7 separate regions of the Homo sapiens genome follow, and all the other regions are linked to region 5. Evidence: fine-mapped QTL for protein levels in blood plasma. Region 5 holds a variant in brackets. A gene starts in each other region. All regions are shown on their forward strands. Distances are from middle to middle.

Region 1 (4,080 bases), not on the chromosome of region 5:
TCTGGAACAGAAAAATTAGCCCAAATAGCCAAGGCAATCCTAAGCAAAAAGAACAACACTGGAGGCATCACATTGCCCAACTTCAAATTATACTACAGTACTACAATATCCAAAATAACAAGGTACTGGTAAAAAAAAAAAAAAAAGCAGACACATAGACCATTGGAACACAATGGTCTAATGCAGACACATAGACCACTGGACAGAAAGCCCAGAAATAGTGCTGCACAACTACACCCATCTGATCTTCAGCAAAGCTGACAAAAACAAGCCATGGGAAAAGGATTCCCTTTTTAATAAATGGTGCTGAGATAACTGGCTAGCCACATGCTGAAGATTGAAAGTGGACCCCTTCCTTATACCATATACAAAGCTCAACTCAAGATGGATAAAATACTTATGTCTAAAACCCCAAAATATAAAAAACCCTGGAAGATAACCTAGGAATTACCATCCTGGACACAGGAATGGGCAAATATTTCATGACAAAGATGCCAAAAGCAATTGCAACAAAAGTGAAACAAAACAAAACAAACAAACAAAATAATTAACTGTAAGAGCTTCTGCACAGCAAGAGAAACTATCAACAGAGTGAACAGATAATCTACAGAATGGGAGAAAATTTTTGCAGACTATGCATTTGACAAAGGTCTAATATCCAGCATCTGTAAGAAACTTAAACCAATCAACAAGCAAAAAATAAACAACCCCATTAAAAAGTGGACTAAGGACATGAACAGATACTTTTCGTGTTTTATTTATCAATCTTAATTTACTTCTTATCCATTTGGAGTGTCAAATAATGGCCAAAGAAATTGTAATTATAAATTAAAGAACAAAATTTAGCAAGTAAAAATAAACAAAAATAACACAAAAATGTATTATCCTTTTACTTTTGTCATTAAGCAACAAATATATTTCTGATAATTTGTCAAATATTTTCTCCTTGAATTAATAGTTTATCTTATTTAAAAGGGTATATTGTGTTTTTAAAATTTTATTTTAAATTTGGGAGTACATGTGCAAATTTGTTACATAGGTAAACTTGTGTAATGGGGGTTTGCTGTAAAGATTATTTCTTCACCCAGGTATTAACCCTAGTACCCATTAGTTATTTTTCCTGATCCTTTCCCTCTTCCCACCCTCTATCCTCCAGTAGGCACTAATCATTAGGGAAATGCAAATTAAAACCACAGTAAGATACCATCTCATACCAGTCGAATGGCTATTATTAAAAAGTCAAAAAATAACAGATGCTGATGAGGTAGTGGAGAAAAGGGTTCACTTATACACCTTTGATGGGAGTGTAAATTAGTTCAACCATTATGAAAGATAGCATGGTGATTCCTTAAAGACCTAAAACCAGAAATTTGACCCAGCAATCCCATTACTGGTATATACCCAAAGGAATATAAATCTATCATAAAGACACATGCATGCATCTGTTCATGGCAGCACTGTTGACAATAGCAAAGACATGCAATCAACCTAAATGCCCATCAATGGTAGACTGGATAAAGAAAATGTGATACACATATACAAAGGAATACTATGCAGCTATAAAAAAGAATGAGATGATGTCCATTGCAGGAACATAGATGAAGCTAGAGGCCGTTACCCTTAACAAACTAATGGAGGAACAGAAAACCAAATACCACATGTTCTCACTAATAATTGGGATCTAAATGATGAGAACACATGTACACATAGAGGAGAATGACAGACACCGGAGCCTACTTGAAGGTGGAGGGTGAGAGGAGGGGCAGGATCAGAAAAACATAACTATGTAGTACTAGTCTGAATACCTGGGTGATGAAATAATATGTACAACAAACCCCTGTGACATGATTTTACCTATATAACAAACCTACACATGTAGCCCTGAACCTAAAAGTTAAAAAAAATCAAATTATACTGTTAAATTATTAGCATGATTTATAAACAATATTGTTTTAGGATAAAGAATTTAATTGCTTGGCAATTGCAAATTATTAAATTAAATATCAATATGTTAGGGAGGCTAATTCAAATGATATAAATATTTAGGCTATAACAAAAGGCAGCTATATATTATTAACCTCACCTCAAAAAGGGGCATAATTTCCATTCCCTTGACTTTAAGGGTAAATTAAGAGAAATTTGTAAAGCACTCAAAAGAATATTCAATTCAATATGTGGTGGACAGTTGAGAAATTATGTGTTATCTATGTCATGGGAAAGCAACTTTTAAAAAGAAAACATTTCCTCTGAGGTTTTCACAAATAAGTGAAACTGTGAACCCTCATATGTACTGTGAAAGGACAATTTGAGGAGCATCTCTGATTAGCAGCAGATTTATTATTCTTTCCTCATTTCATGTTATACTTAATAAAACAAAACATACCTGTATACACACACATTCACTCACATTGAAGATGCAAGATGAAGAAAGATACATGACATTGAATGTACAGTCAAAGAAAAGGAGTTCTGCCCAAACATCTCAACTTACATTTAAAGGTATGGAATTTAATTTCATTTTTTCAATTGGTGTGAATTAACATGGTAGTTTCCCGTATCCTGTTCCATTGTGTTATTGGACTGTTTCAGTATTTGGGTGCTTTTCTTTCTCCGTCTCTGTATCTCTCTCACCTGTCCTCTCTTTCAATATTAATAATGATTTAAAAATAACAACCTCTCTTACCATTTAAGAAACACCAGTTTCCGGCACTATACAGAATGTTTTATCTATGTTCCTTCATTTAATCTTACAAATTTACTATGAGATAATCTCTCTCTCTCCCATTTATCAATGTGGAACTAACACTTACTTGTAATATTTTGTCTGATATAATTTCTTAAGGACATTCTCTGAGGAAATATGCATACTCAATTAAAATTAATAATTTCAAATTAGTGAATATTTGCTGCCATTCACCTCCTTATCATTCATAGAATATGGTGTTTTAATGCTATTTTTTTTTTTTGAGACGGAGTTTCACTGTTGTTGCCCAGGCTGGAGTGCAATGGCATGATCTCGGCTCACTGCAACCTCTGCCTCCCAGGTTCAAGCAATTCTCCTGCCTCAGCCTCCTGAGTAGCTGAGATTATAGGTGCCCGCCACCATGCCTGGCTAATTTTTTGCGTTTTTAGTAGAGATGGGGTTTTACCATGTTGGCCAGGCTGGTCTTGAACTCCTGACCTCAGGTGATCCACCCACCTGAGTCTTCCAAAGTGTTGGGATTATAGGCATGAGCCACCGCGCCCAGCCTTTAATACTAATTTTTAATTCAACTTCTCAAAAACTTTATGCTTTTCACCAAGTTGACTCAAAATAAAGTTTATACACCAGCAATCAACATTTTAATTTGCTACTTCAAGCATACCCTCCATACACAATGCAATTCCATCATGCCACCTTAATGTGATTTGGCAAAAGAGATAAGCAGAAATTAAAGACACAAATAATCACAGTTATAGAGACTGTCTGTTCTGTTCTGTTGCTTTCTAAATATTTCTCTTTTAATAACTTCACCCATGAAAATTTTACTTATCTCTTGAGTCCTTCCACAAGTATCATCCATCAGTGATTCATCTTAGAGTTACATACGTGCTATGTATAAGAAATTTATTGCCTCTTCCATGTGAATTTTTAGATTCCCATATTTTCAAGTCTTTACTTCCTACACTCAATTTTTATTTCATTTTTGGAAATTAGAGATATTAAACCTGAAAGACTACAACATGTAGTGACTTCTCTGCAGACTTTTTTCCACACTCTGTTCATAAATGTCTCTCTGAAGCAAAAATGTGCAGATTTTCGGCTCCCAGATATTTAAGTGACACATACTAATATTTATGTCTTGTACCTTTAGCTAATATTTATTAAAGCTTGAGGTAAGACGTATTTTATGTGAATTAGATTGACAATGTGAGCCTTGGGGTTATGATGTTCATTCATTTAACTTAATTTTGTGATGACATATTTGTAAATCTTTTCTCATATATTGAAAAACCTTTGTTGCCAGTGATAGTAAGAAATTACATAATTGCTCTATCCCACTATACATATGTAGTAGTTTCAGAATCACTATAGAAATA
Region 2 (4,079 bases), not on the chromosome of region 5:
ATGTAGGAAAGGAAATGTAATAGGAAAGGGAAAGTGGAACGCAATAAAGGTTATTTTCTTAATCTAGCTTCTAGAGGAGGTGACTGGAACATAACACTATTGAGTAATTCTGGGAACTGGGCAAAACACAATGTTCAGAATTACCTGACTTTAGGGCTGAGACTGCTGGACTGTATAGCAAATCACAAGATTCGTTTGTTGACGCCCATTCTGGTGATGATTATTCAGCACTTCCGGATTAGCATGTCTGAGAACAGCAAGGCTTTCAGCAGTTATTGGAGAAAAAAAGAACCCATAGATACAGCTATACAGATAACTAGTTGGCCATAGTTCCCCAAATATTCCAAGGGACATAGGCGAGGCAATGATAACTTCAGGAACAAGTGGAGATGAGTGGGAGAGATACAGTACATGGAAATCATTCACCTGTCTACGTACAAAAATAAATAGAAAGAACAGAGGCCGGGCACGGTGGCTCACGCCTGTAATCCCAGCACTTTGGGAGGCCGAGGCGGGCGGATCACGAGGTCAGGAGATCGAGACAATCCTGGCTAACACGGTGAAACCCCGTCTCTACTAAAAAAAAAAAATACAAAAAATTAGCTGGGCGTGGTGGCGGGAGCCTGTAGCCCCAGCTACTCGGTAGGCCGAGGCAGGAGAATGGCGTGAACACGGGAGGCGGAGCTTGCAGTGAGCCGAGTGAGCCACTGCACTCCAGCCTGGGTGACAGAGACTCCATCTCAAAAAACAAACAAACAAAAACAAACAAAAAAAGAACAATCAGAGTTGGCAGCTCAGAAAGAGTTAAAGAGGTATATACATATATGTTTACTGTGTGTGTGTATGTGTGTGTGTGTGTGTGTGTTTAGGTATCTTAAATATTTAAGCCTGGAGTTCTTGAAGTAAACTTGTATTTGTTGGATTTTTATTTCTAAGTCAGTGAACTAAGATGAAAAAAAGGACAATGACTGATGGACGTATTCTCACCAAACAGGGTTCTAAAAACTTAGAACCTCTAACTTCCAAATAAAGGTGGTTGTGTTAGTAATGAAAGTGTAGTAATAATCCCTATTGCACATTCTGTCATAAATTTGTACTCTCTCAAGAGAAAAACTAAAAGCAAACCCCTAATCTCCTATATTTTGAGGCAATTTTACATGGGGGAAAAATAGTATCAGACAGGTTTCTTCCAGACCAGCTTTTTCTAACACTAAAAATGAATAGATTTCAAGTAAGCAAAGGATTTTTAAATAAATCACTTCAACTAAGATTTGCATACAGTCTGGATGAAGTAGATTTTACGCTTATATTCTTCAGTGAGGATTTATAGCTCAACAAATTTGTTGGTGCAATGAAAGCAGCTCTAGGCACACAATGCAAACTGAAAAGATGGAAAGTTTTGACTTCATAAAAACTGAGAAGTCAAAGTAGTCTTTTCTTTCATTTTTTTCTGTTGTTGGTTGAAAGCCCATCTTTTACAAAAGGGTTTATCTATAGTAATATTATAATGCTTGAACATAAACAATATACAAAATATAATACACAAAACGTTTATTTGAGTGTCTGCTTTTGTATGGGGGTGCATGGTAGATTGTATTTCCAGATACTAAATCATGGATCGAAATCTCTCCTTTCAAGATTCTTATTATAGCCAATCTCTTCCACATTGGAAATTTGACCTGTTCCACATTTGATATTCCTATTAACAAGGTTACTCTTCTGTAGATGAAAAAGTGTATATCGAAGTATCAGTATAGTATCTGAATTAGATAACACACTAAACAATATAATAATGTATTAGTAAAAATAAGGAAAATAAAGAAGCTGAAGTCGTGCTTAAAGAACTTTAAGAAAATGAAAATTGAGGTGTTGAAAAAAGCTTTTAAGGCTAACGTGAATGAGGCGTCCAAGTGGGAAACCCATCCAGTTCTACTTTTTTGAACTTTGCCTGTCGTGGCCAGGATAATTAGGTAGAGATCAGAAGAACAGAGTGAGACATGGAAATCCCAATTTATGTGACCTTGGGCAAATTACTTAGCTCTGTATGCCTCAGTTTTCTCTTTGATAGATTGAAGATATTTATATATCTTTACTATCAAGCCATTTACAGAAATAAATGAGCTAAGATATGCCAAGTGCTTTAAATTGTGTTAAGTACAAGGTAAATAATAAATGTTTATTATTAAAAGAGGAAAATTCTGTAAGTAATTTTGTTATGCTAAGTAAATTTACCTTTGGTTTGCCCATCATTTCCTTCATTTTCCAGATAACCCTTTAAAATGAATTTGATTTTCAAACAATAAAAAACAAAACAGCAACAAAACTCCCTCTGACCTCCTCTCACCTTCTTTAGTCCTTGCCAAAGTGTTAATATTGCAAAAGTACTGTGAGAATTTCCTGTATTGTGGTTCCTGGAACACTTCAGAGGCTTGTGATTCTACTGCTTCTTATTCACACTATAATACATGTCTCACCAATAGATGATTCAAGAACATCATTTAAATACACAATTTTTCATTCTCTATTTTTGCTAAATTTCTTCATACTCAACTTTCAGATTCTTTAATCTCCAGCTCAGCTTCAACAATTCAACGCTGTTCTTTCTGAAAAAGTACACATCGTGCCTTCTCTACTTCGCTCTTGGAACATAATTTCTCATGGCAGGTATGTGTGATTTCAGTCACTAAATTAAAAATAACCAGAAAAGCTATTTCTTGGATTGGCTGATTTTGGGGTAATGCTTTAAGAGAAAAGGACATGATTAACAGTGGATGTTTTTAGGATTTTCATGCATTAGCACTTTCCACATTCATTATATTTTCCTGATTCTTCATTGTATAACTTAGACATGATTTCATGAAGTTTTTTCCACAGGTTTGAAGAGTGGTTTCTGACAGGGCTACCTTTAAATTCTGAGTGAGAACTGAACTTTAGCCTGGTTAAATTGTGAGCAACAGTGTTCTAGTATAGCAATAGAAAATGCCAAATATTAATGACACAATGCTGAAAAGGTTTTAATTGACTATTTATGTTGTGACATCCAAAAATTACACAAATGAACAGTTTGACACATTGTACTGTTGTTAATGACATCACTCTTTGAGAGTGTGTTCACGTTAGCACAGAATCTCCTAATGTTGAAATGTTTTAGGTGAAAGGCCTAAAAGCAAGTAATTTTGAGTATGAACAAATGGAATGTTCTAGGGGAAAAAGGATTGTTTATGTATGTTCAATATACTGTGAAATGAAGCCAGGCCTCAAAGTTGTTACCCATCAATTTGTTATCAGTTATCACACCAAGTCCAGAATGTTCCTATGTCTTCTTTTCCCTATAATATCTCTACGAACCAATGAGCAGCTAGACATTTATCAGAGCAAAACCTGCACTGAGATGAGGAGAGGGCATACTCTCAACTAGTATTATTGTGACAATGGTAGACTACGTTGAATGAAAGATTCTTGAGCTAGACACACTTTCATGTGATTTCTGACTTGGATACTTACTTGCTTTGATACCTTGAGAAAATAACATTATTATTGGACCTTATGTTTTCTCATCTATGTAATGAGAACCATACTATCTATCTTGTGATTTTGTTGAGAGAATAAAAATAAATGCCTGTTATGTAAGTCCATAAAACACAACGTGGTGCTTGTTAATATCTTCTACCTCCAGATCTTTAAGCACCTCTGCCAATTTAAAATAAATGGTAAATTCACTTTACTGCAACAGAGCTGGTAGAGAAGAAAATGTTTGAATAATCTTCCTGAAGAATAAGATACATCACATAAAAATGTTGGTATTGGGTGAAGTCCCGATTGGAAAGTCTTCAGTGTTTTATTGGCAAGATGACTCCGTTATCAAATGAAAGAATGTTGTGGATTCTCCGTCACTAGTTTCTGCTTTTAAGAACTCAGCTCCTGAGTTTGCTCTTTAAGTCATTACTCTGTCTGTCTTTCTCTACAGTGTTTAAGACCACTCTGTGGAGGTTAATTTCTGGGACCTTAGGGATAATATGCCTTTCGTTGATGTCTACGTTGGGAATTTTGTTGAAAAATTGTAAGTTTTTCTAAGCAAG
Region 3 (4,080 bases), 75 Mb after region 5:
TTCTTCTGCAAAGTTGTAGGAGTTTTTTTAATCATATATTCTGGATATCAATCCCTAAACATTTATTGTTTTAAGGAAATAAATTTTGAGATAATTTGTTATACAGCAATGGATAACTAATAAATACTAAAAACTCCTAAATGTATATACTAAATATATTAATTAGAAAATTGTAATATAAAAATACTAAAAGCTAAAACTGTCTGATATTAGGAAGATAATTTTACTACAATATATACCTTTTTTGTGTGTATGAGACAAGGTCTCATTATGTTGCCCAAGATGTTCTCAAACTCCTGGGTTCAAGCAATCTTCCCACCTCAGCCTCCTGAGTAGCCAGGATTACAGGTATGTGCCATTACAGCCAGCTTTCACAGTGTATACTTGATGTACTATTAATGTACTATTTAATGACTACTAAAAAGTTTATGATAACAGGAGAAAATGCTTATGCTATCTTAAATAAAAATTTGAGTGTATGCATTGATACCAAGAAATGGAAATTTGAGTGTGTACACTGCTACCAAGAAACTGAAAAATGACATCCCATACCTTTAATATTTAATATTTATAACAAATGAGGTTTACATGGATTTTTTTATCTCATCTTATTTCTGATGTGTTATGTAGTTATAAATACTATTTTATTTGCACTCCTGCTCTGCAATAATTTTGAAGATAGATAACTTATATTATTGCTGTCTTCATTTTTTAAAATTCTCAAATCCAGATGAAATTATCAAAGTTGATAAAATAATCATTGTTCTATCTTCTTATTTGAAGATTAATAATTGTGTTGATTTTGCTTCCTTGCTCTAGTTAGCAGTGATGTCATCTGCTATTTTTAAACTTCCTTGAAATAATATATGTAATCTACTTCTAATAAGTTTTTCTTATTTAGCATTTTGGTCTAAACTAATTTATAATTATTTAGCCTTATTTCTCCATGTTTAACTTGCTTTAAAGCTCAGCACTGGTGTTTTCAGCCATGGCTTCTCCATTTTAAGGCTATTTTAATTCATTTATTATTCTGGAATATATCCTTAAATAATTTATTTAGGAAGGCTGTCTTGGTGGTGGTATTTCTGTTGCAGTTGTTGTTTTCTTGCCTGCTTGGTGACATATTTCTATTGACTTGACACTTAACTGGCATCTTATCTAGGTAGATAATGCTAATTCAAAATTCTGCAGATATTGTTCTGTTGTTTTTTGCCATTTAGGGTTGAGTAAGATGCCAAGTTGTTTTTTGTTTCTCTGTAGTCATTCTGTTTTCATTTTGTTTTTAGCTTTGCCTTTGGAATTTAAAATGTTCAAAATGATTTGTCTGGATGAGAATCGATTTTCATAACTTTTGCTTTGATACACTAAACAGTTTGAGTTTCTAGATGATGCCCATTTTAATTCATACGAGGAAATATCTTCTAGTATAGTTTCTGCTTGATTAATTCTATGTTTGTCTCTTAGGGACATCTATTAATTTTATAATGCTGCCTTTTTTTCAGACTTCTGTTTCAGAATATTCGCTTTCATCAATGTAATCCTTGGCTATAGTAGGAATGAAATAATAAAAGCAGTAGCTTCTGTCTGCCCTCCTTGGTTATGCAGTCCTTACAGAACATCTCCCCATCTCCCATCCCCCCACCCCAGCTCAGTGAAACTCTCCACACTTTGGTTGTGGAAATTGGCAGGGTTAGGTGGCTACTCACTCCCAATCCACATCCACAATAAATCACTTTTTATTATCTTATCAAAATCTGTAGAATGCCTCTTTATTCTATTTTGTTGCTGCGGAGGTTTGTTTTCTCTTTCTAATTATTTTATTTTCTAGGTTTTTTGAGGGAATTTCAAGAGGGGAGATTTTTTATTCAGGCTCATCTTAACGTCATGTCTGGAACTCAAGCTACTGAATTATATATTCTTTAATACATATAGACCTACGTCAATGAGTTTAAACTGCAAGGAAAGGGTTAAATTTCTTCCTCAAGTGTGGTCAAAATCTGTAGAGAAAAGAGGAACAGCTTCTCTTAAAGAAAGTTAGCTGGGTAGGTATACAGTCATTGCCGAGGAAGGCTTGCACAGGGTGAAAGCTTTGCTTCTCTGCTGCTGTAACAGGGACTAGCACAGACACACGGATGAGTGGGGTCATTTCCAGATATTAGGTCACAGCAGAAGCAGCCAAAATGGATCCCCAGTGGTGAGTAATAATTCTTATTCTTTGCAGAGAAGTTATGAGTTGTGACTGCAGTGAAAGGCTGAGGTTGAAGATGGTGCTTTGATGTGTGTCCTTCACTTAGTTCCTAAGTGGAGAAGCTTTCTTTTTCTACAAAAGATCTTTGGCACATAAAGGCAAGAATTATTTGCAATGCCCAAAGCAGTTCATTGGTGGTAGTTATATATATTTTTAGGTGCCTAATTTTGGTTTTGTAAATCTGTTATTCAAATACTGAATGTTACAGTCATTGATTTTAGTGAAGAATCAGGAATTTTTAAAATATCTGCATAAGAATGACAAATAACAGGGAATATGTTTTTTGTCTACCAGGGTCAGTTTGGTCTGAGGGTGGAGGAATGAGATAGAGAAGGTAGAGGGAGAGAGATCAAGAAAAAGAAAGAGAAAAAAGAGGTATAAGGAGAAAATGCAAAACTCAGTTAATATGTCATAATCAGGCCATGGGAGATTCTGGGCAGGGTTGGGTAGTGGAAGGAGGTAGAGTGATTAAATTAGTTACCATGTATTGAACATGCATGATGTGCTGGGTACTTTACTAGTGCTATTTCATTGAATTTTATTCTTCACAATGACTTTTGGAAAGACATCATCATTCTTTTTGACAGATGGGGTAACTGTGGCTTAAAAAACTTGCCCAAGTTCACACTATTCATAAGGGGTAGAGCTAAAATCTTTCCTGCCCGCTTCGTGGTGCGCCAGAAGGTTTCTCCATGCTGTGGAGACTTCCTGGAAGGAGTCACACCCGCCCTTCTCTTGGGTGGTGGCAGCTGGCGCCAGTCACTATGTATTTATTTATTTTTAATTATTTATTTTTGAAACAGAGTCTCGCTCTGTCGCCAAGCTGGAGTGCAGTGGCGCAATCTCAGCTCACTGCAACCTCCGCCTCTCGGATTCAAACGATTCTCCTTCCTCAGTCTCCTGAGTAGCTGGGACTACAGGCGCCCACCACCACGCCCGGCTAATTTTTGTATTTTTGGTAGAGACGGGGTCCACCATGTTGGCCAGGATGGTCTCGATCTCTTGACCTTGTGATCTGGCCACCTCGGCCTCCCAAAGTGCTGGGATTACAGGCGTGAGCCACCGCGCACCCGGCCGTCACTATGTATTTATAATTACTGTTCTTTGAAAATCGAAGTAACTTTCATCTACCCAGTGCTTACTGGTTTGAGAAAAAGCTTTGTTGCTTTTATTTCAGAAGATTAAAATTTAATTTTCCAGTAAAGATTCCTTTTGCTCCAGTGGAATTTTGAAGCGTTATACTTGTATGAAGAAAAAAAGAATTTCAAAATTTATAATTTTTGTGGTACCATAGAGGGGATACTACTTAATTATGCTAGCACTGTCTGCAGAGGTCTAAAAAACCATAGGCTGCTGTCTATATTGAACTTGTTAAGATTCCTTTTGTTTCACAGTGCCTGAAGATTGGTCATGAACCAGTAATAGCCATTAAACAATGTCTGTTCTCATAAGAGATGAAATAAATACAAATTAAAACAACAGTGAAGTATCATTTTTTCTCTATCAAAGAGATAAATATTAAGTTTTAAAAAGCAAGCAATCAAGAACCCTCTATCTTGCTAAGAAGGGAGGATTATTTGTACCCTAGTTGCGCACTAGTGGTGATATCATCTTTCTGGACAATAATCTAGTGATACATATCAAAAGCCTTTAAAATGTATATGCCCTTTAACCAAGCAATTCACCTTTTAGGAATTTATTCTAAGATATAATAATACATGTTTGTAAAGTTTTAGTGATGGATATTTTTCTTGCTATTGTTTCTAATAAGGAAAATCTTAGAAACAATTTACGTGTTTAAAAACAAGTGATTGGATGATTATGGAACATCC
Region 4 (4,080 bases), not on the chromosome of region 5:
GCTGAGACAGGTGGATCACCTGAGGTCAGGAGTTCAAGACCGGCCTGGCCAACATGGTGAAACCCCATCTCTACTGAAAACACAAAGTTAGCGGGCATGGTGGTGTGCACCTGTAATCCCAGCTACTCGGGAGGCTGAGGCAGGAGAATTGCTTGAACCCGGGAGGTGGAGGTTGCAGTGAGCTGAGATTGTGCCACTGCACTCCAGCCTGGGTGAGAGCAAGACTCCCTCTCAAAAAGAAAAACAAAAGGCGGGGGGAGGGGAGAAGCATGAATAATCCACCCTTTGTTTAGCACATCATCAGGAAATAACCATAAAAATGGGCAACCAGCAACCCTTGGTGCTGTGCTGTCTATGGAGTAGTCATTCTTTTTATTCCTCTACTGTCTTAATAAACTTTTTACTCTATGGACTCGCCCTGAATTATTTCTTGTGCGAGATCCAAGAACCCTCTCCTGAGGTCTGGGTCAGGACCCCTTTCCTGTAACAACATGGTCCTATCCCAGCTCCCTGTCTGATGTCACCTCACTCTGTTCCAGACTGACTCTTCTCCACCAAACACACCAAGCACACTCCCGCTCCAGGACCTTTGCAGTGGCTCTTCTGCTTGCAAGTCTTCTCCCCACAACCACGTGGCTCATTACCTCCTTTTCTTTGCCAAAAGAACTGCCCCAGCAAAGAGGCCTTTCCTAATAACTTTATGTAAAACAACACCTCGTCCCTTCATGCTTTGTCTGTAATGTGCTTTACTTTTCTTCATAGCACTAATCACCACCTGACATCATTTATATTTATTTGTTCACTTATCTTCTGTCTCCTTCACTAGAATCTGAGCTCCATGGGGGCAGGGATTCTTGTCCATGTTGTTTACTACTGTACCTCCGGTGCCGGCACATAGTAGGTGTTCAATAGGTATTTATGGGATGGATGACTCAAACCTTTCAGTGAATAAACAGTTCAGTGTTCTCATCAATCCATCCTGGTGCCCACCAAGCTAATAATATCACGGTAACAATGGCAGCTAATTTTACAGGAGCATTTCCTATGGGCCAGACCTTAGAAACGTTATCTCCTTACACAGGGCACTGCATTCACGCCTAGAACACTGAAATTTAGGTATAATCATGAGCTCAGAGGTCAGGCGACTTGCTCGAGGTCATAGGGGACGGCATCAGAAGAGGAACACAGACATTTAGCCTGACGGCAGAACTGTGTTCTAAAACCTCAAAGTCATAATTTGCCACACGCTGGAGAAAGAAAACAGTCGAAATGGAAGCCACCTGGCGAGCTCAGGGCGCCAGGTGGGAGCGCTGCTTCCCACATATGGGAGTCCGGCCCCATCGCTCTTTGATCTTTGCAGCGTCCGTGGCCCCACCGACCCCGTCGTGAGTTATGGGAGGCACGGGACCCATAACCCAGCATTCTCAGACTCCCAGGGTCGTCAGGACACGGCGCCCCGCGCGGTGATGGATGAGCCGGCCCCAGCGCTGGCTTTGTCCGGGTTGGGCCGGTCTGAGAAGCTTCAGGCCGGCTTTGGACGGGGCGTGGCGAGAGCCGCGCCGCGTGTGAGTGTGTGTGTGTGTGTGTTTGTGTGTGTGTGTATTGGGGCGGTTGTCTTTCTCCCTTCCCTACCGGGAAAGAGGGCACAGGTGCGCCGTCAGCGCCCCAGGTGAGCTGGTAGCACTTTGAAGACCCTTTGTACCCCTACATCCAGGAGCGACCTCTCGGAGAACCCCGCCTGCCCACTCTGCGCACTTTCTGCGGCTACAAAGGCCCCGCCGTTCCCCGTCCCGCCTCCCCCGCCCTGGGCATTTCTTCCGTCCCTTTTGACAGTCTAGGCGGAATAATCCTTTTGTGGCCCCGGGCCCCTGCCCTGACAGACGCGGCCGCAGCTGAGCGCGCAGCCTCGCTCCATTGTTGGGGTCCACCGAGGACCGCCCGCCGCGGCCCTTTGTCGCCCGCCCTGCGCGGGGCCGCTCCAGAGGCGCCACAACTGCCGGAGCCCCTCCCGTCCCACGCGCCCTGGGCCGCGCCGAGGCGGCTCTTACGCACCGGGAGGAGTGGGCCTGCCTCGCCCGGTGCCCGCACGGCTGCTGGGCTGCGCCCGCCTTTGTCTGCCTCCTTTGTCTGCCCCGCGCCCTCGCGGCGGCGGCGCCTAGGCCTCTGGGGAGCTGGCCCAGAACTCAGAGCGCAGCTGGCGAGGGCGCGCTGGCCGGGTGCGCGCCGGGCCCGGCCCCGGGGCTGCCCCTCGGCTGGGGGCAGTCGAGCCCGCCACCCGCCGCCCCTCCTCTGTCCCCTCCCCGCGCTCCCGCCCCCTTCCCTCCTGCCCGCCCACTCCCCCTTCCTTCCAGTCCCGCTCAGCCCGGGCACATCCTCCGGCTGCCCGCGCACCTCTCCACGCCGGCCCCGTTCCGCGGCTCGCCCTCGGCTGCGCTCGGCTCCCGCGGGCGCTCGGCCCCGAGCCCCTCCTCCCCCTACCCGCCGGCCGGACAGGTAAGGCACGGCCTCGGCCCGCCCCTGGCTCCGCCCCTCCCGCCCCACCTGGCTGCGAGCCCGGACAAAGGTGGGCTACCTGGCGCGCCCAGGGGCGGGGTGCGCGGGGTCCCGAGGCTGGAAGTGAGGATGCTGCCTCCTTCCCAGCCCTCGGACCCGTCTATCCGCCAGTCCTTCCGCCGCCTCCTCTCCTCGCCGCGTCTGCCCACGGACCCTGGCTCTGCTCCCGGGCTCCCCATCCGTCCACCTACCGCTGGACGCCCACTTTTCCACGCTCTGACACTCGGCCTCGCGCGCGCCCTCGCCGCCCTCTGGGGTCCCGGCTCGCACCTACTCTCCTCGGCACTAGCCTTCTCTCTCCCTGACCCAGTCTCCCTTTGTCTCTCTGTCTCTGAGTCTCCGGGTGGTCTCTCAGGCAGGGGGCCCCAGTCCGCCACCGTTGGAAGAAGTCTTCGAAGACTCCCTGAGCCCCGGGCAGAGCTGGCGGGCGTGCCCTCCAGCCCCTTTCGAGGCCGCCCAGGAGGCTGGGGTGTGTGGCCGGGGTCGCTGAGTGCGCCCGGAACCAGCACCGCCGGTGGCCCCGCGCCGTCCCATCTGTGCCCAGGAAGGTACTCAGCCTGGCTCCCCCGACGGCGCTGGTCTTTCGCCTGTGGTCTCCCGCTCTGTCCCTCCTGCTCCCCACCGCCGGCTTTTGGCTTTTCTCCGTCCGCTCGTCAAGGGTCTCAGCCGCCTTCGGGGCCGGGGTATGAGATGAGAGAGGGCTGGGGTTTCCCGCCAAGTCTTTCTTGCTTTCCTCAGCTGGGTGCTCCCTGGGCCATCCTCTCCGCCCGGTGGTCTCCCCTGCCCTATATGCTCCCTCCACGCTGCCCACCTCCCAGCCCAGTGACACACTGGTGTCTGGAACCGGTTCAGTACTATGCATCTGGAGTCGGGTACACTGGGGCTCTGGGAGTGATCTCGGACAAAGGAATGCACCTCTCTGAGCCTCAGTGTTCCTGTCACAAAACAGGGATGGTGCTAGTCCCTACCTATAGGGATGTGTGTGGAAATTGTGGGGTGCCGCTTGGTGCTGGTTCACACACCCTGTGGAGGAAGGGAGGGGAGGGGAGGGGAGTCTACAGACCTGGGATGGGGTGGGGACAGGGGGCTCCACAGAAATGGATCTCAAAGTCAAGGCTTAGAGACACTTCAGAGTAACCCCACCACCACAGCCTCTTCCCCCATCACACTTCCTGTCACCTTCACCTCCTCGTGCCCATACAGGCGTCCACACCCTTGCAAGCACTCTTCTCTTTCTCTCTCTCCTCCTCTTTGCTTGTCCTAAAATCAGCTAAAACAATCAGGGCCAATGGGTCACTTTTTTTCAAAATGAGATCAGTGTGGCTGAGCTGGTGTTGCCAACAACTGATCACCCATCAGAAGGCGTCCGGTGACTCACCCCCAATTCTGAACCTCAGTCTTGGCTTGATGCCTTTAATAGCGGCACCAGCTCACAGGCCACTTCCTTTCCTCTGAGGGGATTGTCTTGCTGGCTCCTGGACCTGCTGTGTGCTTGCCCAAGCCCCCTGACCACTGTCTAGGTGGTCA
Region 5 (4,000 bases):
TCTTAATATTAAACATCATATAAAAAACTTTTTTTAAACATTGTACAACATGTATAGTGAAGTATATCACACAATTCTACATGCCTAGTCCATGGTGACTAGTACAGTATCATATTCTAGTACAGGTTAAGCAGCCCTAATACAAAAATACAAAACATTTTGAGTGCTGACATGACACTCAAAGGCCATGTTCAAAGGAAATGCTTATTGGAATATTTCAAGCTATACATTTTCAAATTAGAGATGCTCAAGTGGTAATTATAGTGCAGATATTCCAGAATCCATAAAATTCTGAAATGTGAAATACTTCTGGTCCCGTGAAGCTCAGATAAGGGATACTCAACCTGTACGCGGTAAATACTGATAGATAGCTGGTCTAGGAAATTGTTACTTCGGCCAGGTGTGGTGGCTCACGCCTGTAATCCCAACACTTTGGGAGGCTGAAGCGGGCGGATCATGAGGTCAGGAGTTCAAGACCAGCCTGGCCAACATGGTGAAACCCCGTATCTAAAAATACAAAAATTAAGGTTGGGCACAGTGGCTCATCCCTGTAATCCCAGAACTTTGGGAGGCCAAGGCGGGTAGATCACGAGGTCAGGAGATTGAGACCATCGTGGCTAACACAGCGAAACCCCGTCTCTACTAAAAATACAAAAATTAGCCAGGCGTGGTGGCGGGCGCCTGTAGTCCCAGCTACTCAGGAGGCTGAGGCCGGAGAATGGTGAGAACCCAGGAGGCGGAGCTTGCAGTGAGCCGAGATCATGCCACTGCACTCCAGCCTGGGCGACAGAGCAAGACTCCATCTCTTAAAAAAAAAAAAAAAAAAAAATACAAAAATTAGCTGGGTGCAGTGATGCACACCTGTAGTCCCAGCTACTCAGGAGGCTGAGACAGGAGAATCACTCGAACCCAGGAAGTGGAGGTTGCAGTGAGCCAAGATCGTGTCACTGCACTCCAGCCTAGGTGACAGAGTTAAAAAAAAAAAAAAATTATTACTTCAAAAATTCATAGTAAAATATAAAAATACAAGGTCAGGGTAAACAACAAATAAAAAGGATCCTAGGAGCATTTTTTTTTTTTTTGAGATGGAGTCTTGCTCTGTCACCTGGGCTGGAGTGCAGTGGCGCGATCTTAGCTCACTGCAAGCTCCGCCTCCCAGGTTCACGCCATTCTCCTGTCTCAGCCTCCTGAGTAGCTGGGACTACAGGTGCGGAGCAAAATATGTATTAACGGAACTATAAATTCCACAGAATTAAAAAAATTTTTTTTTTACAAAATGGTTGAGTTCACGCCCTCAGGGTGGCTCAGGTGAATTTGGTGGCTACACAAATTTAAAAACGGGCCGGGCGTGGTGGCTCATGCCTATAAATAATCCCAGCACTTTGGGAGGCTGAGGCGGGTGGATCACCTGAGGTCATGAGGTCAAGACGAGCCTGGTCAACATGGGGAAACTCCGTCTCTACTAAAAATACAAAATTAGCCAGGCGTGGTGGCACACACCTGTAATCCCAGCTACTCAGGTGGCTGAGGCAGGAGAATCGCTTTAAACCAGGAGGTGGAGGTTGCAGTGAGCCAAGATTGTGCCGCTGCACTCCAGCCTGGGTGACAGAGCGAGACTCTGTCTCAAAAAAAAAA[T/A]AAAATAAAATAAAATAAAACAAAGAACACGTGAAAAAAAAACCCAAAAATAAAACCCAAAACAAATCCAAACCAAAAAGAAAACCTTCCAAAGACAAAGTAGACAGCCAATGAGTTTTAACAACTGAAACATTTCTTACTGGCTGCAAGGGCTGAGGCTGCCCTGGTGCAACTATTGTAGTCACTGCTGCGGCTGGCTGTACCACCACTCCTTGTGGATGAGCTGTGAAAATCTGTTGCCCCTGGATATACTGAAGACTTGGCTGGGCATAACTCTAAAAGATAAAATGAAGAAATCAATAATTTAAGCTTTTGTCACTTTAATAAACAGACTGACTTCCAAGTTGGCACAATCTTAAAGATATACCCATAACATTTTAAAATTTTTTGTTTATATATTTGGACATAAATGTGCAAAACAATTTTTTGTTTCAAACCCCAAAGTTTCTTTTTTTACTAATTCCCTATTCATTTACTTACTTTGATTTTACTTTATCATAAGAAAATAAAAGCTTTTTTTTTTTTGGTCATAGAAATTCTCCAACTGTTTAGCTTTCAATGACATTGGAATGACATTGAAAATTAAACAGGTGGACAGTTTCTATAAGCAAAAACCAATGAAGTGCTGCTCCTGGGATATCCAAGAAACAATGCCACGCTGCTCTTTTCAGGAAGGCTTTTGCTACCAACTTGTAATAACAAACAGGTTGTTTGGATCAGAAAAGGTCAAAGGGTGTGAATCATAGTAAATAAGATGATCAAATTTTAAGCTACCTTTTGTTTTAGCTTTTTGTAGTCTTCTATGATAAAACCCCTTGGCAGAAAGCAGAATCAATGCATCTGAAATTCTCACAACACACCAATTTATACAGTGTTCTATGATGCAAGAAGCCCCTTAACATACATCATCTCATTTAGTGCTGACCACCATCAAAACCAGGTACTGCCCATGCCTGGAGTTTCATAAGAAATAAGTACTATGCTAGGGCTTAAACCTACTCTGTAATTATTTCTCAAGCATAGAAAATCTGCTTAAATAAGAAGAGGTGATAAGAAGACTGAAAAATAGCCTTGCTGTCCTAAGAGGTGGTGACTGTTAAGGAATTGAATAGACATGTATCCTGTGCTTAAGGAGAGATTTTGCTCCTATGGACTGAGATTCTAGCAGGTAAAATGATTACAGAAACATCAAATGCTAAGTACTCAAAATACAAAATATAATTCCAAATGACACCAGTAAAAACTCAAGTAGTCTGAATAGGCAATGCAGCTATCTAGCAGGTTTCTGAATGAATAATTACTGACAGGACACAGGAAAAAGGAAAAGAACACTTAATTTGGTATTCTGGATCAGCTTAATCTACTTGGATAATAAACCAGACTGAAAAACATTAATTGTTAAGGCAGAATTACCATCAGAATAGTATCACAAAGCCTGAGAGGAAAATGTACAGTCATGTATTGCTTAACAAGGGGGGTACATTCTGAGAAATGCATTGTTAGGAGATTTCATTGTTGTGGTAACATCATATAATGTACTTTCACAAACCTACTAAGTGTATGAGGTACTTACACATCATACAGTGTACTTCACAAATCTATTAGATACCTAGGCTATATGGTATAGTCTGTTGTTCCTAGGCTACAAACCTGTACAGCATGTTTCTGTAATAAAGACTTGTAAGCAACTATAACTTAACAGTATCTGTGTATCTAAACATGGAAAAGTTACAGTAAAAATACAGTATAAAAATTTTTTAGGCCGGGGCACGGTGGCTCACACCTGCAACCCGAGCACTTTGGGAGGCCAAAGTGGGCGGATCACGAGGTCAGGAGATCGAGACCATCCTGGCTAACACGGTGAAATCCCATCTCTACTAAAAATACAAAAAATTAGCCAGGCATGGTGGCATGCACCTGTAGTCCCAGCCACTCAGGAGGCTGAGGCAGAAGAATCGCTTGAACCCAGGAGGTAGAGGTTGCAGTGAACCGAGATGGCACCACTGCACTCCAGCCTGGGCAACAGAGCGAGATGCCGTCTCAAAAAAACAAAATTTAAATGGTACACCTGTATAGGGAACTAACTATAAACAAAGCTTGCAGGACTGGAAGTTGCTTTGAGTAAGTGAGTGGTGAGTGAGTGAATATGAAGGCCTAGGACATTACTGTACACTACTGTAGACTATAAACACTTGGGCTACACTAAGTTTATTAACATTTTTTTAATAAATTAACTGTAACTTACTATAACTTTTTTACTTTATAAACAAATTTTTTCAACTTTTTAACTCTTTTATAACACTTATCTTAAAATACAAACACATTCTACAGCTGTATAAACAACCCTCCTCCCTCCTCCTCGCCA
Region 6 (4,080 bases), not on the chromosome of region 5:
ATATTAATTATTTACTGATGATTAATATTTACTTAAAAGCCTTTTTTAAACTTTTATTTTTGGTTCAGGGGTGCATGCGAAGGTTTGTTACATATGTAAATTCATGTCACGGGGGTTTGTTGTACAAAAGCCTTTTATAAATTAAATGATAATATGAATTATATTTTATAGGTAAAATTAGACATTGATTGCGCATGTAATACCTAACTCAGTTATTTTACATATGGAGTAAAGAGAGTAGGTATCACTTTATGGATGAAGAAATTGAATGCTAGAGATGGCCAAAATCATAAAGCTTATTTAATATAATGTTACCAACTGTGAATAAGTTATAAATTTATAAACACCTTTAGGATAAAAAGTGCTTTAACATACATGTCAGTTGATTTGAATATTACACAAATCTAAGATAAATATGGAATGTTTCATGCCTGTATTTGATAGAAAAAGAAACTAAACTAAACTACACAGAGGTTGCAAATTGACCCTTCAAATCTAGAGAGCGGTAAAAGTTTGAGTAAAATTCAAGTCTGACTCCACATCTATTTCACTATTTCAAGCTGTCCCAAGTTGTGAGCGACTTTACCATAATATAGTTAATAAAATAAAGGGAAAAAAGTTTTTAAGTTTTGGAAGACTTGATTTAAAATACAATATGAACATAACATGAAATCAACATAAATAGAACATGAAAAGAATCAGAGTAAATTGCTTGCCTATGCCTTATATGCTTGTATGAAATTCTTGGTATCTTAAAATTGTATAAAAACAAAACTACACACTTATGTGGTAAAAACATACCCCAGCTGTGTCGAGACCTCCGACCACGAATCCACCCCATCAAATACTTATAAGTGCACGTCTACCGCAGAGAGGAATCTAAAGTCTTCAATGCACAAAGGATTCCTGAATAAAATAAAACTGGGCATTTGTTTTTTGTTCTCTTTCCCGTGGTGAGATAAAATATTTTGAATAGAAAAGTAAAATGCAGAAACTTTTCCCCTGTGCATGCCTTTAAGAAAAGAATAGAAATGACAATTCACATAAAGCCAGGCAAAATTAATTTTATACATTTCTCTTGGTTGTAAAATAATCGCCAATTACTTCAAAATGTCATAACAATATAATGAACCTATTAATTCACCTACATTGAGATATTTAATACCAATATTTTACTTTACTGATATTAGATAACAACACACCCAGTTTTCTGTTTATAGTCGTTTATTGCTTCTTGGCCTTTTAGCTAAGATCAAGTGTTTCCAGTTGTTTATTTTATCTGGCAATAATTTAGTTTTCTTTCTGCAAGCTAAACTCAGGTAAGTTATATGCACTTTTGTTGAATGTCCTTTTCTAGTGCATTTTAATCCAACGTGCCCATATCATCATCATCAACAAATTATCATCACCATCATCATTAACAAAACTAATCTCACATGTTTATATAGTAACATCTTAGCAATGCACAGCAGAGCTTCCAGAAAAAACCATTTAATAAATAAGCATAGTGCTTAGATTTCAAAAATAAAAGCTATTTCATATTTGATTATGATAGTTGGAAAGCACAGATATAACTTGTTTCACCTTGCATGTAAAGATGTGTATCAAAGGTAAGTGCCCCCTACAGCATCAGAAAACTCAAAAATTTGACAATTTAAATTGAATCTCAATTCTTCTCATCCTAAATGTAAAGATTCATTTTTCTAGTTTTGCTTAGAGACAAGGCTTCTTCTTATAGTAATATTACAACTTCTGATTCTTCAATAAGTATATCCTAATTACCTATCATCAGATACAGTGATAGAATATACATCAGAAATGATAAGCATTCCGTATCCTCAGGAGTTCTATTCAAGCATCTAAGAAACAATTAGAATTACCTTATAGTGTAAATATTTTTATTTTTTTGAGGTTGAAATATAATTTCTCATATCTTGAATAATAAACACACACACATACACACATACACACACCTGCTCAGAGAGGGAAGATCTTGATTCTTGTGGATAAAAGCCTTCTATAAAACTAGAAAATTTAGATATGTCCTCAGTTCCTGATCTAGAATTGAAAGTGGAGATACTTAGTGAATTTCTATCTTTGAGAAAGATGTGACAAATATTATAATCTCATCTTCCTGTGGAAAAACATAAACCACAGTACTTCCGCCTTATCACTACAAAAATATTGTTAATTTGGTAAAAGAGTTAAGACCACCCATTGTTGGATAAATGTTAGGTTGGTGCAAAAGTAATTGTAGTTTTGCCATTATTTTAAATAACATTTTAGGATTTGAAAATGATGAATTTAAATGATGCCATTTAATCCTAAATATTTTAGAGATTCAATTCAATTCCAGTTAATACCTCAGGTTTTGTTGTAGAACTTACAAAGCAGAATTCTACATGTACATTAAATTACAAAAGTCAAGACTAGGAAAGTCACAATTGAAGATGAAGAAAATGTGGGAGCCTTGTTTTACTAGATAGTAAGACCTATGTTAAAACCGTATTAATAAAGGCAAAGTGGCATGTGGGGCATAGATAGACAAATTGAGAAGGGTAAAAATACAGACAAGAAAAAGTCATGTGCATAGATTAAAAAATATAAGGTAACATTGCAGATAAAGTGGGAAATTAGCTCCTATTCAATAATTTGTCCTGGGTTACTATCACACTGGCCTTTAAGTTACAAAAAATTAGTCCTGGGAATTTTTAAATTTTAATATAAAAAACATGAAATTGCATCTCTGTCATATCTACATCATATGCAGGAGAATTAGAAACTTAAATATATACCCCAGTATACATAAGAATAATATATGAATTGATACCAATGAACAAGATAAGCTAAATATATATTTTATGTTTATTAATTTAAAATACTAACATAAGACATCATATAAAGTAATATAAGATGAACACATTATAACATTTTAACAAAAACCAAAGCTATTAATCTTAAAACTCTGAAATATAAGGAAGGAAAACAGCTTTCATGTGGTGATGTGTTAAAGTTGGACAATAAATTTATTCAACATTTTTTTTCTTTAGCGAATGCTATTTGCTATGCACTTTTCTAGATCTTGAGAATGTCAAAGTAAACAATCCAAAAGAAAGTTTTTGCCCACATGGAAATTAATTACTTTTTTTTTTTTTTTTTTTAAGAGATGGAGTTTCACTCTTGTTGTCCAGGCTGGAGTGCAACGGGGCGATCTCGGCTCACTGCAACCTCCGCCACCTGGGTTCAAGCAATTCTCCTGTCTCAGCCTCCAGAATAACTGGGATTACAGGCATGTGCCACCACACCTGGCTAATTTTTGTATTTCTAGTAGAGACGAGGTTTCACCATGTTAGTCAGGCTGGTCTCGAACTCCTGACCTCAGGTGATCCTCCTGCCTCAGCCTCCCAATGTGCTGAGATTACAGACGTGAGCCACCACACCCAGCTGGAAATTACTTTTTAGTTTAGGTGATATAAAATGAATAAGTATAAAACAAATTCAAAATTAAACAAGATAGGTGAATATAAAACAAGTTGAAGAAAATATGTTATTTTCTGACATACCAAGATTCTTTTCAGCTAATCAACATTTTCTATTAGCTATTTTATATAGTAAAAATAGATCTATATAGAGGAAATATAGGCTGATATTTTCTAACAACTACATTTTAACAAATATTTGGTTTTTGAAAGGAAATGAATAAATGAGTAAATGCAGGCTTTTTATGGGAAAAACCTGAATCACAATTTCCTGAAGAGTTATTTTTATATATGTAGTTTTCGATTGAATAGAGATTGTCTCTTAAATACAGAATTGAGAAAAGGGGGATAGGAATAGGATAAAAAAGAACATTTGAATATCCTACCTATTTCGTTTAGTTCAAATGGCAACTTACAGCCAACTGGGAAGTCCCCACACATACCTAAAAGAAGATTTCTGAAATAAATACCATGATAAAGCTAAGCACCAGGGAGAGTTTTATTGTCATATATAAAGGTCCCTAAACCAACTGACAGAGTGTGGAAAGGATTCTTAAAGAAGAAAATTCTAAAATGGGTCCTGTATGTCGGGTTAAAACAA
Region 7 (4,074 bases), not on the chromosome of region 5:
TGACTTTTTTAAGTCTGCACTAAAATTACTCACCAAAACCAATAGCAGGGTCCTCACTGCTGTTACTGAAAATGATTAACCTTTGATACACTTGTAATATCTGAGAAAAAGAAATGCAGGGGTCTCAGCAGGGCTCCCTTCTAAGGTCACTTGATTTCTAAAGAAGTAACCACTAGGTTTGAAGTCATCAGGATGTTAACTATGGGGATGGTTGGTTCAGTACCCAACATCCTGACAGCACATCTGACCATGTATATTGTATCGGAGACCACATCCTCAGCTCAGAAAAAGAGCTGAACTCATTTCAAATAGAAAGCACACTGCATACTGTTCCTCCAGGGACTGAGGTTGACTCTTCTTAGAGTGAGACATTCCCCAACATTGGAACAAAAATGACTCCCACTTCTTTTCTCACCTAAACCTGTTCAGAAGAAAGTAAGGAAGAAAGGCAGGAAGCAGGGGTCGGGGGGGGGCGGGGAGGGAGGGAAACTCGGAGATACTTTCAGTATCTAAAGTTGTGAAACTAGACAATCAGGAACGCACAATCAGAGGGCTGAAAAGGGCCAAGAGCCCCTACCCTCCTCCAGCCCATGTTCCCACACCTGCCACAGACCAGGCAGGAGCACAATAAACACTCACCACAAAGTGGGGAAGGAAAATCCAGGCAGGAGCCTCTATGTAAATAAATCTCCCTCCTGTCCTCAGCTTGCACTTGGCCTGCTAATTCTTATATAACCCAAGGAGACAGCTAGAAAGAATTTTGATTGGTGACCAATTTTGAGGACTTTTATTAAAATTCTAATTTAAGTCTTCGAGAGTTTCCAGTCATGGATACTACAGATAATATTGCAGATGATGAAAGCGTCTTCAAAATCATAGCTGAGACACTTTACAGTCTTCCCTGGTGTACTCTGATGGCAACAAGGTCCCTTGCCCCTCTCCTACCCTGTAGAATTCCAGCGCCCCCCTCAGCAGTCCTAGCAAAGGAAAGCCTGCCTGCTGGCAGTGAGCCATCATCCACCATTCTCACTTATTTGGATTTGGTTTCCTAATGCTAAACTTTGAAACTTGAAAAAAAAAATGAAAGGAAACCACATCCTTTTTACTCTCAGTATATAGATAGAGGCAGTTAAGAACTGAAAACAGATTTTCAGGTTGATTGATGTGGGACAGCAGCCACAATGAGGAACTCCTATAGATTTCTGGCATCCTCTCTCTCAGTTGTCGTTTCTCTCCTGCTAATTCCTGAAGGTAAGACTGATTCTTCTCATTTCCATTATGACCATGAAGCAAAATGGAGCAGACTTTCAATGAACTTTTGGCAATATTACCTTCCTATACTGAAAGAAGATGTTTTCCCCCAAGCCTTATAATGTTTAGCCAGGCACAATGGCACATGCCTGTAGTCCCAGCTACTAGGAACGCTGAGGTGGAAGGATCACTTGAGCGCAGGAGTTTGAGTCCAGGCTGGGCGACATAGTGAGACCCTGTCTCTATTTTTTTTTTTTAAATAGCATTCTTTCTTGGATTTTAAATATGTCTGTATTTTAGAAAAAAAAATCTTTTCTTCTCATAATTATTTTGCAAAAGATAGCAGAACCACCAATGCTTATTGCTGCCAATTTGTAACTTGAAAATTGCCAAAAAGGACAATGTAAAAATGAGTTAACAAAACTCTCTTGTTCGTAAAACAAATAGTACCTTCCAGGAAAGGAATAGTGGCAACTTAGTCAGCTCAGCCTTTCCTGCTGCAGAAAATGCATAGATAAAGACAATTAAGACAAATCTGACCTAGACACCAAAAGTGAATCAGGAATTATTAGAATTTTTATACTTATTTCTCTGGTCTAGAGACTCTTTGGCAATAAATTAAGGCGTGAGGCCAGTTCCCTCATTAACCCTTTGGGTGTGCTATAGTATTTTTTATTAAGCTAATTTTTTGTCTACCAAATGGTAACCAATATTTCTGCTTTTGTGTGAGTTGAGCATGCATGGGTTAAAATGCTGTATAATTCATGGTATTACCACTGAAAGGGTGACAGCTCTTGGGGAGCTCTAGATTTCCCTTGAAGAACCTGCTAGGAAGTGAGGACTACTCTCAAGCTGTGGCAATATGGAGCCAGCCACGGTTTTTCCCAGGATTCATCAGCTTTTGGAGGCAGGGACTTATGTAATAACCTGCCTTGCCAGGAATTCCCAAAGAACTCTGGTTTATCATATTTAGGTGCATATCTGGTTTATGCACCTAAATATGAGAAGACTTTGGGAGGCTGAGGTGGGTGTTTCACAAGGTCAAGAGATGGAGACCATCTTGGCCAACATGGTGAAACCTTGTCTCCACTAAAAAAACAAAAATTAGCTGGGTATGGTGGCACGTGCCTGTAATCCCAGCTACGCAGGAGGCTGAGGCAGGAGAATCGCTTGAACCAGAGAGTTGGAGGCTGCAGTGAGCTAAGATCGTGCCACTGCACTCCAGCCTGGTGACAGAGCGAGACTCTGTCTCAAAAAAAAAACAAAAAAGAGAGAGAGAGAGAAGAAATATAAAAATAACAAGGCTGCAGGACATTTGGGACAAAGGTTGGCTATGTTATAAGCAGGGCATAGTATGACTATATTCAGGCATGTTAAATCCTCCATAACAGAAAAACACAGGGCAGATAAATCCAGCCATATCTTTTCTTCAAAGGAAAACAACAAAAGCAACCTGCTGTGCTCCTCTTTGTTTCCTGTGTTCAGAGAGGGCAGTGTGGGCCCATATAAGGAACAGACAGCAAAGCAAGGCACAGTTGAAATCTATCTGTACATGAATCACCCTAGGAAAATTGGGATTGGGTGAAGGTCTTTTGTTTCTATAAGCTCTTTACCCTTTTGTTTCTAGAGCCTAGAATTTCTTCCTCCCAGTTTCCTTTTTAAAAGCAGAGACCTCTGCTTTTTCAAATCACACTAGCCACATTTCATGTGGTCACTCTCCTCCTTGCTCTTACCCTCATCAAATCTTACGAAAGGCTTCTATAGCTGTCATTAATACTTGCCTGTGAATTTGGCAATGACTTAGTCCTAATTATGGAACAAGAGGCACTGTGCCCTATTCAAGAAACCATGAGTCTCAGCAAAACTATTTTGGGAGAATCCAAGAACATCTGGTGCAGGAGGTGGAGCACTCGGAGTGTATCACTAAGACATAAGGTTCTCTCTATCTGCATGTATGGTTTGCCTTGTGTTTAGTTCTCACTGTTCCTTAACAATGGGTCTCTACTTCAAGACTATCATCAAGGAAATGTCACTTAGGCAGAATTCTTGGCATATGGTATCTTCTCTCTTCTCTTCCCTATCTCATTGGAAAAGACCTTAGATTAAACCCCATGGTTTGGTCTAGAGATTGAAGGGGAGGTGCAATCGATGTTATTTTCTTAACTTATGAGTGAGAACAGTGCAGTTTAATAACCAAAAGTCTCATAATGACCAAAGGACTGAGGGGTAGGGTCACAGCTAAACGATGCTAATATCGGTTCATAAGCTATATTTTTGCAATGGCTTGGGGTTAAAAGGGAAGTTATGAGGCTTCTAAAAGTCTTATCTATTTCCCCCAAATTAATAGTTAGCCAAAAAGGGTGGGAGCACTTGAGGTTGTCACTACCACTGGCATTTCCTGCAGCAACTGTTGATGGTAAAGACCAAGGCAGAGCTTTCTGCCCTGGGGCCTGAGGTTGCTGGTTTGTGACATCCAGCCTAATGATCCTGGAACAGTCAATGGCCTCGCTTCTGTGGGTGGAAAAACAGGACCCTAGAGTCCAACAGGAATAGGATTTGCATCAGATGTCTGCGGGTCTACATAGAGTAAAAGCAGGGGAAATGCTCTCATCCAGACTTCCTCTCTGAGTGCAAAAAGCATGGCTGGTCTTAGAAACATGACTTTGTGTAGAGCTCTTTGGGGGTGAGCACCAATCTGATTTGTCTTTTTCCATTGAACAGATGTCTGTGAAAAAATTATTGGAGGAAATGAAGTAACTCCTCATTCAAGACCCTACATGGTCCTACTTAGTCTTGACAGAAAAACCATCTGTGCTGGGGCTT

Alleles and levels. Alleles are on the strand shown, and positions count from the first base shown. The strength of an association depends on the size of the effect and on how common the allele is.
In carriers of allele T in region 5, the plasma level of the protein whose gene starts at base 2,351 in region 1 tends to be higher than with A alone (weak association).
In carriers of allele A in region 5, the plasma level of the protein whose gene starts at base 2,450 in region 2 tends to be lower than with T alone (moderate association).
In carriers of allele T in region 5, the plasma level of the protein whose gene starts at base 2,053 in region 3 tends to be higher than with A alone (weak association).
In carriers of allele A in region 5, the plasma level of the protein whose gene starts at base 2,350 in region 4 tends to be lower than with T alone (weak association).
For the plasma level of the protein whose gene starts at base 2,072 in region 6, allele T in region 5 goes with a higher level than allele A (moderate association).
In carriers of allele T in region 5, the plasma level of the protein whose gene starts at base 1,145 in region 7 tends to be higher than with A alone (weak association).

The links. PIP is the chance, under the fine-mapping model, that this variant and not a neighbour inherited with it causes the effect. Protein levels are from antibody-based Olink assays in UK Biobank. Linkage for the fine-mapping came from a reference panel and not from the study's own genotypes, which makes the PIPs less certain.
Region 1: KLRF1 starts here. The variant in region 5 is fine-mapped to the plasma level of the KLRF1 protein (UK Biobank, PIP 0.99).
Region 2: KLRD1 starts here. The variant in region 5 is fine-mapped to the plasma level of the KLRD1 protein (UK Biobank, PIP above 0.99).
Region 3: CD86 starts here. The variant in region 5 is fine-mapped to the plasma level of the CD86 protein (UK Biobank, PIP above 0.99).
Region 4: DRAXIN starts here. The variant in region 5 is fine-mapped to the plasma level of the DRAXIN protein (UK Biobank, PIP above 0.99).
Region 6: KLRK1 starts here. The variant in region 5 is fine-mapped to the plasma level of the KLRK1 protein (UK Biobank, PIP above 0.99).
Region 7: GZMA starts here. The variant in region 5 is fine-mapped to the plasma level of the GZMA protein (UK Biobank, PIP 0.92).

Annotation. Positions count from the first base shown.
Region 1 is chr12:9,825,131-9,829,210 of GRCh38, forward strand. It overlaps KLRF1 (killer cell lectin like receptor F1), which reads left to right and starts at 2,351. Exons shown (of 6, transcript NM_016523.3): 1 at 2,351-2,499. The coding sequence starts at 2,415.
Region 2 is chr12:10,305,421-10,309,499 of GRCh38, forward strand. KLRD1 (killer cell lectin like receptor D1) reads left to right here and starts at 2,450. Exons shown (of 6, transcript NM_002262.5): 1 at 2,450-2,664; 2 at 3,968-4,060. The coding sequence starts at 2,658.
Region 3 is chr3:122,053,310-122,057,389 of GRCh38, forward strand. It overlaps CD86 (CD86 molecule), which reads left to right and starts at 2,053. Exons shown (of 7, transcript NM_175862.5): 1 at 2,053-2,194. The coding sequence starts at 2,181. It also overlaps a transcript of ILDR1 not described here.
Region 4 is chr1:11,689,361-11,693,440 of GRCh38, forward strand. It overlaps DRAXIN (dorsal inhibitory axon guidance protein), which reads left to right and starts at 2,350. Exons shown (of 7, transcript NM_198545.4): 1 at 2,350-2,493. It also overlaps a transcript of MAD2L2 not described here. RefSeq lists enhancers at 648-1,157, 1,158-1,665.
Region 5 is chr3:47,044,712-47,048,711 of GRCh38, forward strand. It overlaps SETD2 (SET domain containing 2, histone lysine methyltransferase), which reads right to left. Exons shown (of 21, transcript NM_014159.7): 16 at 1,776-1,910. Among named protein-coding and RNA genes, the nearest start is that of NBEAL2, 67 kb to the left of the region's middle. The variant T/A (reference allele first, on the strand shown) is at 1,636.
Region 6 is chr12:10,387,970-10,392,049 of GRCh38, forward strand. KLRK1 (killer cell lectin like receptor K1) reads right to left here and starts at 2,072. Exons shown (of 8, transcript NM_007360.4): 1 at 1,974-2,072; 2 at 802-906. The coding sequence starts at 841. KLRC4-KLRK1 (KLRC4-KLRK1 readthrough) reads right to left here. Exons shown (of 13, transcript NM_001199805.1): 6 at 3,866-3,922; 7 at 802-906. The coding sequence starts at 841. The region is part of intron 3 of KLRK1-AS1 (KLRK1 antisense RNA 1); the gene reads left to right.
Region 7 is chr5:55,101,502-55,105,575 of GRCh38, forward strand. GZMA (granzyme A) reads left to right here and starts at 1,145. Exons shown (of 5, transcript NM_006144.4): 1 at 1,145-1,251; 2 at 3,973-4,074. The coding sequence starts at 1,182.